2 linked regions of the Homo sapiens genome follow. The protein of the gene in region 2 interacts with the protein of the main gene of each other region in a pairwise test. Each region holds a gene or a part of one and is shown on either strand. Other genes may lie near its edges.

Region 1 (3,600 bases), on a different chromosome or scaffold from region 2:
AGAGCAGCTACCGCCTCTGCTGTGCTCTCAGCTGCCGAGTGGTGGCCAGAGGGCATGCCAGCCTCCAGCTCCCGGGTGGCTAAGCCCATCATTACCCCAGCTCCACCACTCCCTGGTGGGTGATGCAGAAACACCTGGGCTGCCTTCCAGGAGCAGCTCAACCAGGTAAACCCTTGGGCACCAAGTGGAAGCAGGAAGCTGGTGCTTCCAGATGCTCCAGAGGCCCCCAGCTATGCCCCAGGCAGCAGGCTGGCTTGGCAAGGACAGTCCCAGCTCGAGTGCCCTGGCTGCCTATGCCACACCCAGATCGTGCCAGGCCATGACCAGGCTTTGACCCATGCCCCAGCCCGGCAGCATGCTGCCGTGGTGACCCATTTTCCTGCCCAGTCATAGGAGAGAGGAGGCTAAGCTTGAAGAACCAGGCATCTGTGCACACCCATTTCCAGGACTCTGTTGTCACAGGAAAAGCTCCAGCTAATCATATCACATGGTTCCCATGACACAGATGTGCAAAACGGTGCTGAGGGGGAGAGCGGACCAACCAAAGCCTCTTCGCTTTCCAACAGGTGGAAGTGAGACTTGAACCTGGGGCTGTGTGGCCCCGACTCAAGCCACCCAGCCCTCACTCCACAGGCTCCCCCTGCTCAGGGTTGAAGGGTCTTAGGCAGCCATGCCACCCAGTCCCCTGCAGGATGCCTGACCCCACGGCAACCTGGAAGGTGAGCCGATGTAACACAAAGAGCACTGAACTGAGAGTCCAGAGCCTGGGTTCAAGCCCCAGGTCCACCACAATCAGTACCAGCCCTGCCCTGTCTGGCCTCAGTTTCCCCACCTGCCCAAGCCCAGGGTTAGCCTGGCTCAGAGGGTCTCTGGGCCTCGTTCTGCGCAGACAAGGCTCTCCATCAGGGATTCCTGAGTATTTTCTTTTCCCCGACCCCTAACTCATGCGCCTCACAACTTGAGGCATCCTCTCTAGGTGGGTCCTGACTCCAAAGATGGAGACGGTCTAGTCGCCCACGGAGCAGACGACCTGGTGCCCCGTGCAACCCCTAGATCCTCCCTTGGGGTTGGGGCAGGGGCCAGGAGGTCTTTGACGGCCGAGCCGTCGGGTGGGTGGGGCCGTGGACTGCTGACTGGGGGGCTACTTAACAAAGAGGAGGCGACCCGTAGTGCTGCAGCCTCCCTGTCCCTGCTTCCGTCGAGGGCGCCCACCCAGCGCCGTCGAGGCGGCGCCCCGGGCCACCTGGGGCGGACACGCTGGGGGCGGGGGCTCGGGGCCGAGCTGGACCTCCTCAGCTGCACATCCACGGGGTACAGGGGGGCGCGACTTGGCCCTCAGTATCCGTCCGGACTCCGTATTTCAGGGGGTCGGAAAGCGGCGGGGGCGAGCTGGGGGCTGAGCCTCGCGTCCGACCCCCGTCCCGCGGGTGCACCCGCTCCGGCAGCGACCCCGCCCACCGCGCCCCCTGCCCGCTCCCCCTTCGCGATCCCCCACGATCACTGACCATAGTGACCAGAGCCGCCAGGCCAGGTCCCGCCCCAGCGAGGAGCGATCCGGTGCGGGAATGCCGCGGGAGGCGCGGGCGGGCTCCGCCGCTGGTTCGGTGGCGGGGACCTCGAGGGCGTGGGGGCGGCGGAGAATACACCCGACCGCTCCGCAAACCAAAGGTTAGACCTCCACTGTGTCCCAGCAAGACACACGCCCTGCGATTGACGTCTCAGGCGGGCAATCAGAAGCCGGGACGCGGGACGTCATAGAAAGTGGGTGGGACTTCACGTGCCTTCAGCCTATGCGTTAGGGTCCATTTGATAGGATGCCTCCCCCTTTTAAAGACACAGGAAAGCTTTTAACTAGCAGAGGAGTTAGCTCAACCCAGAAAGACAGGTCCTCGTTTGTAAAGGCTGAAGGGCTTTTGCGCAAACCTAAAATTGGAGTCTTCTGAAGGATTAGCTGGCCGTCATTAATTCATAAACAAGGTCACATAAGTATAGTTTGCACAAGATCAGAGGATAGGCGCTTAGGGAACACGTGTCCAATAACATTAAGTATGGCTTCTATATAATATTTTATCCTCTTCCAACTCATGAATCAGTAGGTTGCCACGCACCCAGTTAATGTTTGTTGAATGAATGAATGTCCAGGATCGTTGACTCTGTGGCTCTGGAATTGTAGGGATATCCGTGAACCAGGTCTAGATGACTCATCTTGCCTACAAGCTCATTATTAATGGACATCAAAATAGGAATATTTATCATTCAAAGATTCATTCACCAGCCCTTGAGTCCTGGAGGAGCTGCTTGGGTGTGGGAGGGAGAGTTTGTAGGGGAGGGGGGCTCAGTGCATTGCATGCATCCACTTCAAAAAATTAATATTTCCAGGAGCGTGTATTGAGCAATTCCCCTTCCTGCTGCTGCCCCCCGCCCCCGCCCCCCGCGCCCCACTCTTACTACGTAAGTCCCAGGTACTGGGCTAGGCTCTGGGCATACAGACATCTGAGTCTTCCAAGCATGTATCATGTCCTGGGCAGGGAGTGTGAGGTCAATGGAGGCTCAAGGAGCAGTAACAATAGCAGGTAATTTTTTACAGTTATTTACACAGTTATGCAGAACACCTACTATGTATCAGGCGCTATCCTGAACTCTCCACATATACAGAATTATCTTACTTAATTTCCTCACAACTGGTTTAAGGGGGTAGGTCCTGTTATTATTATCCCTGTTTCACAGATGAGGAAACATGTACAGAGAGTTTACGTTCCTTGCCTTAGTCACATAGCACTGAAGTGGGATTCAGTCCCAGGCAGTGTGACTCCAGAGCTGGTTTCGAATTCACTCTGCATGTGACTACAGGGGCTGTGTTACCTGCCTCCGCCCCTGACCCCCATTTGTTTTCGGGGGGTTTCTCGCTCTTTTTTTTTTTTTAACCGCCAAGGAAGCCAGAGAGGTGACAGGAGCAGCCCAGTGCTGCTGAGCTAAGAAGTGGCCTGGCTGGGCTGGATCCCTGGACTCCTGACTCCCCAACCAGTGCTCATTCCAAGGCGTGTTAGCTTCCCTCTGTGGAGGAATGACTGAGCCAGGTTCCATGGTGTCTGAGTGAGGGGTATGGGTGAAGAGTCTTTTCAGCCAAGGCTTTGATGAGCCCTCAAGTTTGGCTGCACTAAGCCCCGAGTCCTGGGCTCACTCTCTGCCCTTCTTCAGGCCCCAGCAGTTCCAAACCAAGCCAGCATGGGAGTGTGGAAGGAGCACTGGGCTGGAGTCCATGAGGAATTCTGGGCCCTTGGGCTCTGCCACTCACTGCTGTGTGACCCCAGGCAATGCCCAGGCCCTCTCTGGTCTTCTGGTTCCTCACTCAGTGAGAGGGTTGGACAATCTGGGTGGTTAAAAATGTTTTGTTTTGTTTTGTTTTAATATTTGTAGTAATGAAGGCTTTAAACACACACACACACACACAATCTTACAAGAATCTCAGTGCATGCGTAACAGAATATTTCCTCAAATTTAGCTCAATTCGCAGGGAAAATGTAATTTCCTTAGTCTAACTAATCAAGATTCCTCGTAAGCTCTCTAAAGCCTGGTTAGAAGGAAAAAAGTTGCAGAAGG
Region 2 (3,942 bases):
AAATATGTGATGAAATACAATAAAGTGTTAACTCTACATTCTAGGTGGTGGTCTGTGGGTGTTCACTGTAAAATTCCTTCAACTTTTGTATGTTTCACGTTTTTCGTAACTGAATGTGTAGAGGGGGAGTCTTCTGAGACTGGCAAGTGACTGGGCATAACCTTTCCGATTAAGGGCAGAGGGCAAGGCAGAGCTGGCACGCCTCCCTCCACCCAGTTCTACCTAGATCGGCCCCAAGGGAAGCAGCAAAGAACCCAGGAGAGCAGTAACTTGCCCGGGCACCGCCCCGCCCAGCATCAGGCCCCAGAATACAGAAGAAACTGGCAGAAACACTATGGAACGTCCCTGCCCCCGGGCCCGCCAACCCCCTCACTGGGACAGGTTCTCAGCCCCAGCTGCGCCCGGGAATGATCTGGGGAGCCTACTAAATGCAGATTCCTGGGCAGCGCGACGGAACTACAGCATCCCAACACCTGGGGTGGGCCCCAGGAATCTGCCCGTTTCCCAAGAGCCCCAGGTGGTTCTGACGCAGAGGATCTTGAGCCCACCTTTGGAGGAACTCACAGCCACTCGCCCCACCTCATCTAACACCTGTTGAGAAGCCCCCCAAGGAACTCGCTAAGCCAAGGTCCTCGAAGGCGCGACTCCTAGCCCCAAGCTAGGCCAGGCCGTCGCCATCTCCGCCGGGGATGCGCGGCCGAGCGCCACATCCCGACTCCACACGTCGGCGAGCCGGGCGCGGGTGCAGGACACTGCTGGGCTCCGGGACGGCCAAGGTCACCCGCGGGGCTCGGCAGGGGCTGGCTCGGCCACGGGGCTCCTCCTCGACCCCCTTTCCTTGAGAAAACAACTCCCACCCCTCCCCTCCCCGTCTCGCCCTGCAAGACGGAGATGGCAATTTCCACAACCTTCCCTGACGGAAAAACGTGCGGGCGAGCAGGCTGCCATTCCGGGCGCACAACCCCGCGGCACACAGCGGGGCGCCCGCCCGGGCCCCGCCACCGCAGCGGCTTCGACATCCCCAGGGCCGCGCTAGGTCTCGGCAGCGCCCTGAGGGGAGGACGGGCCCCGCCATGCCGCGCCCCAACCGCCGGCCCCGCTTTACCTCCAGAAGCCCGGTGCCCGAGGCCGGCCGAAAGCGGAGAGGGGCCCGGGTCCGGACAGGCGCCGGCAGAACAAGACCCTCAGCCCCGCGCGGCTTTGCGCGCACAACGAAACCCCCCAACCCACCGCCCACCCCACCGCCCAGAGGCTTCTAGGACTTGTAGTCCGCCCGGTCACCCCCCCCACCACAACCCGCTCTGAGAGGCTGGGGACTACGGTGCCCGGCATGCACCGCCCAGGCGCCGCGGGCGGGGGCGGGGAGGGGGCGCCACGGTCCGAGGTCACGCCCCGACCTGAGGAGAGCTGGCGCCCAGACCCTTCCCCCGGGGAGGAGGGCTCCCGCGCGAAGCCGTCTCCGAATGCGTCCAGTCGACTCACCGTCCCCGCAGCCCTGGGGCAGCGGCCGCAACAGCAGGACCGAACGCCTCGGCAGCTGGCAGTCGCACTTCTGTCACAAGGAGGCGGGTAGACTTTGGACCAGGGCCGAGGCCCGGGACGTCACGGTGGGGGGTGGGGTCTCGGGAGGCACGTGATGCGCCGTGATGACGTCAGTGGGAGCGGAGGCGATTTGGCCTAGAGCTGGGGCTGAGCACGTGGGATGGTCGGGGCCTGTTTGCCCAATGTACACGAGGCTGGAGAATAGGGAAAGAACCGTCCCTGTGAGCGCCTCCTCTTCACTCATGCCAGCAACAGGGCAGGGCATCTTCCTCCAGGGCTGCATTTTTTCTTTTATGCGACTAATATTTATTGAGTTTGGGAGGTGCATTACATAAAACCTTGAACCACACGGTCACTGTCCCTGCGCTTGAAACTGCCTTTGCAAAAATTACAACAGAAAATTATGACAGTGAAAGAGAGCTGACCTAACCCACTCCATCTTGCTTCTAACCTCCAGGTTGTCCTTGTTCATTCCTAGGCATAGGCAGAACTAACTTTGGGAGCAACTTAGTTTATAGTTTAATATTGAAACAAAGATAGTTAACAGCCCTTTCCCAAAACAAACCCCCTTGTTGCCTGAGAACCAGGCTTCCTTTGTAAGAGTAACACGTTAGCTACAAGATTAGACATTATAGTTTAGGGCCCAGCTCAGTGGCTAACGCCTGTAATCCCAGCACTTTGGAAGGCTGACGCAGGTGGATCACTTGAGGTCAGGAGTTTGAGACCAGCCTGGCCAACATGGTGAAACCATGTCTCTATTTAAAAATACAAAAATTAGCCGGGTATGGTGGCACGCACCTGTAATCCCAACTACTAGGGAGGCTGAAGCCCAAAAATTGCTTGAACCCGAGAGATGGAGGTTGCAGTGAGCTGAGATTATGCCTCTGCACTCCAGCCTGAGCAAGAGACTGAGACTCCATCTCAAAAAAAGAAAGAAAGAAAGAAATTACGGTTTAGGAGTCATGCACCCAGAGGCCACAAGATTCTAAACCTCCCCAGTTGATCCTAGGTATAATATCACTATTGTAAAACCTAAGATTGGTACTCTTAGGTGTTTTTCTGACCCTGCAGTCTGATGCACCAGCCAAGGCCACCTAGAGCTGTAATCTGACTCAACCAGTTCTTGCATCCTTCAACACCCTGTGATTTCATCTCCCACCCCACCAATCAGCACTCCCTACTCCTTGGCAGCTTATCTACCAAATTACCCTTTAAAAACTCTAGGCTCTGAATTTCCAGGGAGACTGATTTGAGTAATGAAACTTTGGTCTCCCATTCAGCCAGCTCTGTGTGGATTAAACTCTTTCTCTATTGCAGTTCCCCTGTCTTGATACATTGGCTCTATCTGGGCAGCCAGGAAGAAGAACCCACTGGGTGGCTACTTGCTCAGGTACTTCCTTTGTTACAGACAGTATACAAGGAAACCACAAAATGCCCAGGACTGTGAAGGAGAGGAAGGGACGCCCTAACAGAGTTACGGGGTGGTGCCACTAGACAGGTTGGTTAGAAAAGGCCTCTCAGAGGAGGCGATGCTGAGGCAGGGGCATGAAATTGAAAAGACATTCTATTCTGGAAGGGCATTCCAGAGGGAGGGATTGCCTTGGGTGAGAGAGTCAGAAAGGTGAGGATGTCAGTGGGGCAGGCTGGATCCAAGTCATGTTGAGATTTGTAGGTCATTTTAAGAACTCTGGCCAGGCGTGGTGGCTCATGCCTGTAACCCCAGCACTTTGGGAGGCCGAGGCAGGCAGATCACTTGAGGTCAGGAGTTTGAGACCAGCCTGGCCAACACAGTGAAACCCCGTCTCTACTAAAAATACAAAAATTAGCCCGGCATACACGCCTGTAATCCCAGCTATTCGGGAGGCTGAGGCAGGAGAATTGCTTGAACCTAGGAGGCAGAGGTTGCAGTGAGCCAAGATCACACCACTGCTCTCCAGCCTGGGAGACAGAGCAAAACTCTCTCAAAATAAAATAAAACTCTGGATTCTTCTTTCTTTTTTTTTTGAGATAGGATCTTGATCAGGCACCCAGGCTGGAGTACAGTGGCATGATCATAGCTCACTGTGACAACTCCTAGGCTCAAGCAGTCCTCCTGCCTCAGCCTCCCAAGTAGCTGGGATTACAGGCATAAGCCACCATACCTGTCTGCAGTTTGGATTTTTTTTTTTTTTTAGATGGAGTCTCGCTCTGTCACCAGGCTGGAGTGCAGTGGCTCGATCTCGGCTCACTGCAACCTCCGTCTCCCAGGTTCAAGCAATTCTCCTGCCTCAGCCTCCTGAGGAGCTAGGACTATAGGTACCTGCTACCACGCCTGGCTAATTTTTGTATTTTTAGTAGAGACTGAGTTTCACTATGTTGGTCAGGCTGGTGTCGATCTCCTCACCTCGTGATCCGCCCGCC

What was found. The genes of interacting proteins can lie anywhere in the genome.
Region 1: the proteins of CDIP1 (region 2) and OTUB2 interact in binary tests that used the Homo sapiens proteins (3 or more experiments, as listed by UniProt).

The regions. Positions count from the first base shown.
Region 1 is NC_000014.9:94,024,446-94,028,045, reverse strand, and holds the start of OTUB2 (ubiquitin thioesterase OTUB2), read right to left. Parts: upstream 1,707-3,600; 5' UTR 1,509-1,706; coding exon 1,506-1,508; intron 1-1,505. UniProt on the Homo sapiens protein: Hydrolase that can remove conjugated ubiquitin from proteins in vitro and may therefore play an important regulatory role at the level of protein turnover by preventing degradation.
Region 2 is NC_000016.10:4,537,220-4,541,161, forward strand, and holds the start of CDIP1 (cell death-inducing p53-target protein 1), read right to left. Parts: upstream 1,555-3,942; 5' UTR 1,483-1,554; exon of another isoform or gene 1,382-1,482; intron 1,211-1,381; exon of another isoform or gene 1,106-1,210; intron 1-1,105. UniProt on the Homo sapiens protein: Acts as an important p53/TP53-apoptotic effector. Regulates TNF-alpha-mediated apoptosis in a p53/TP53-dependent manner.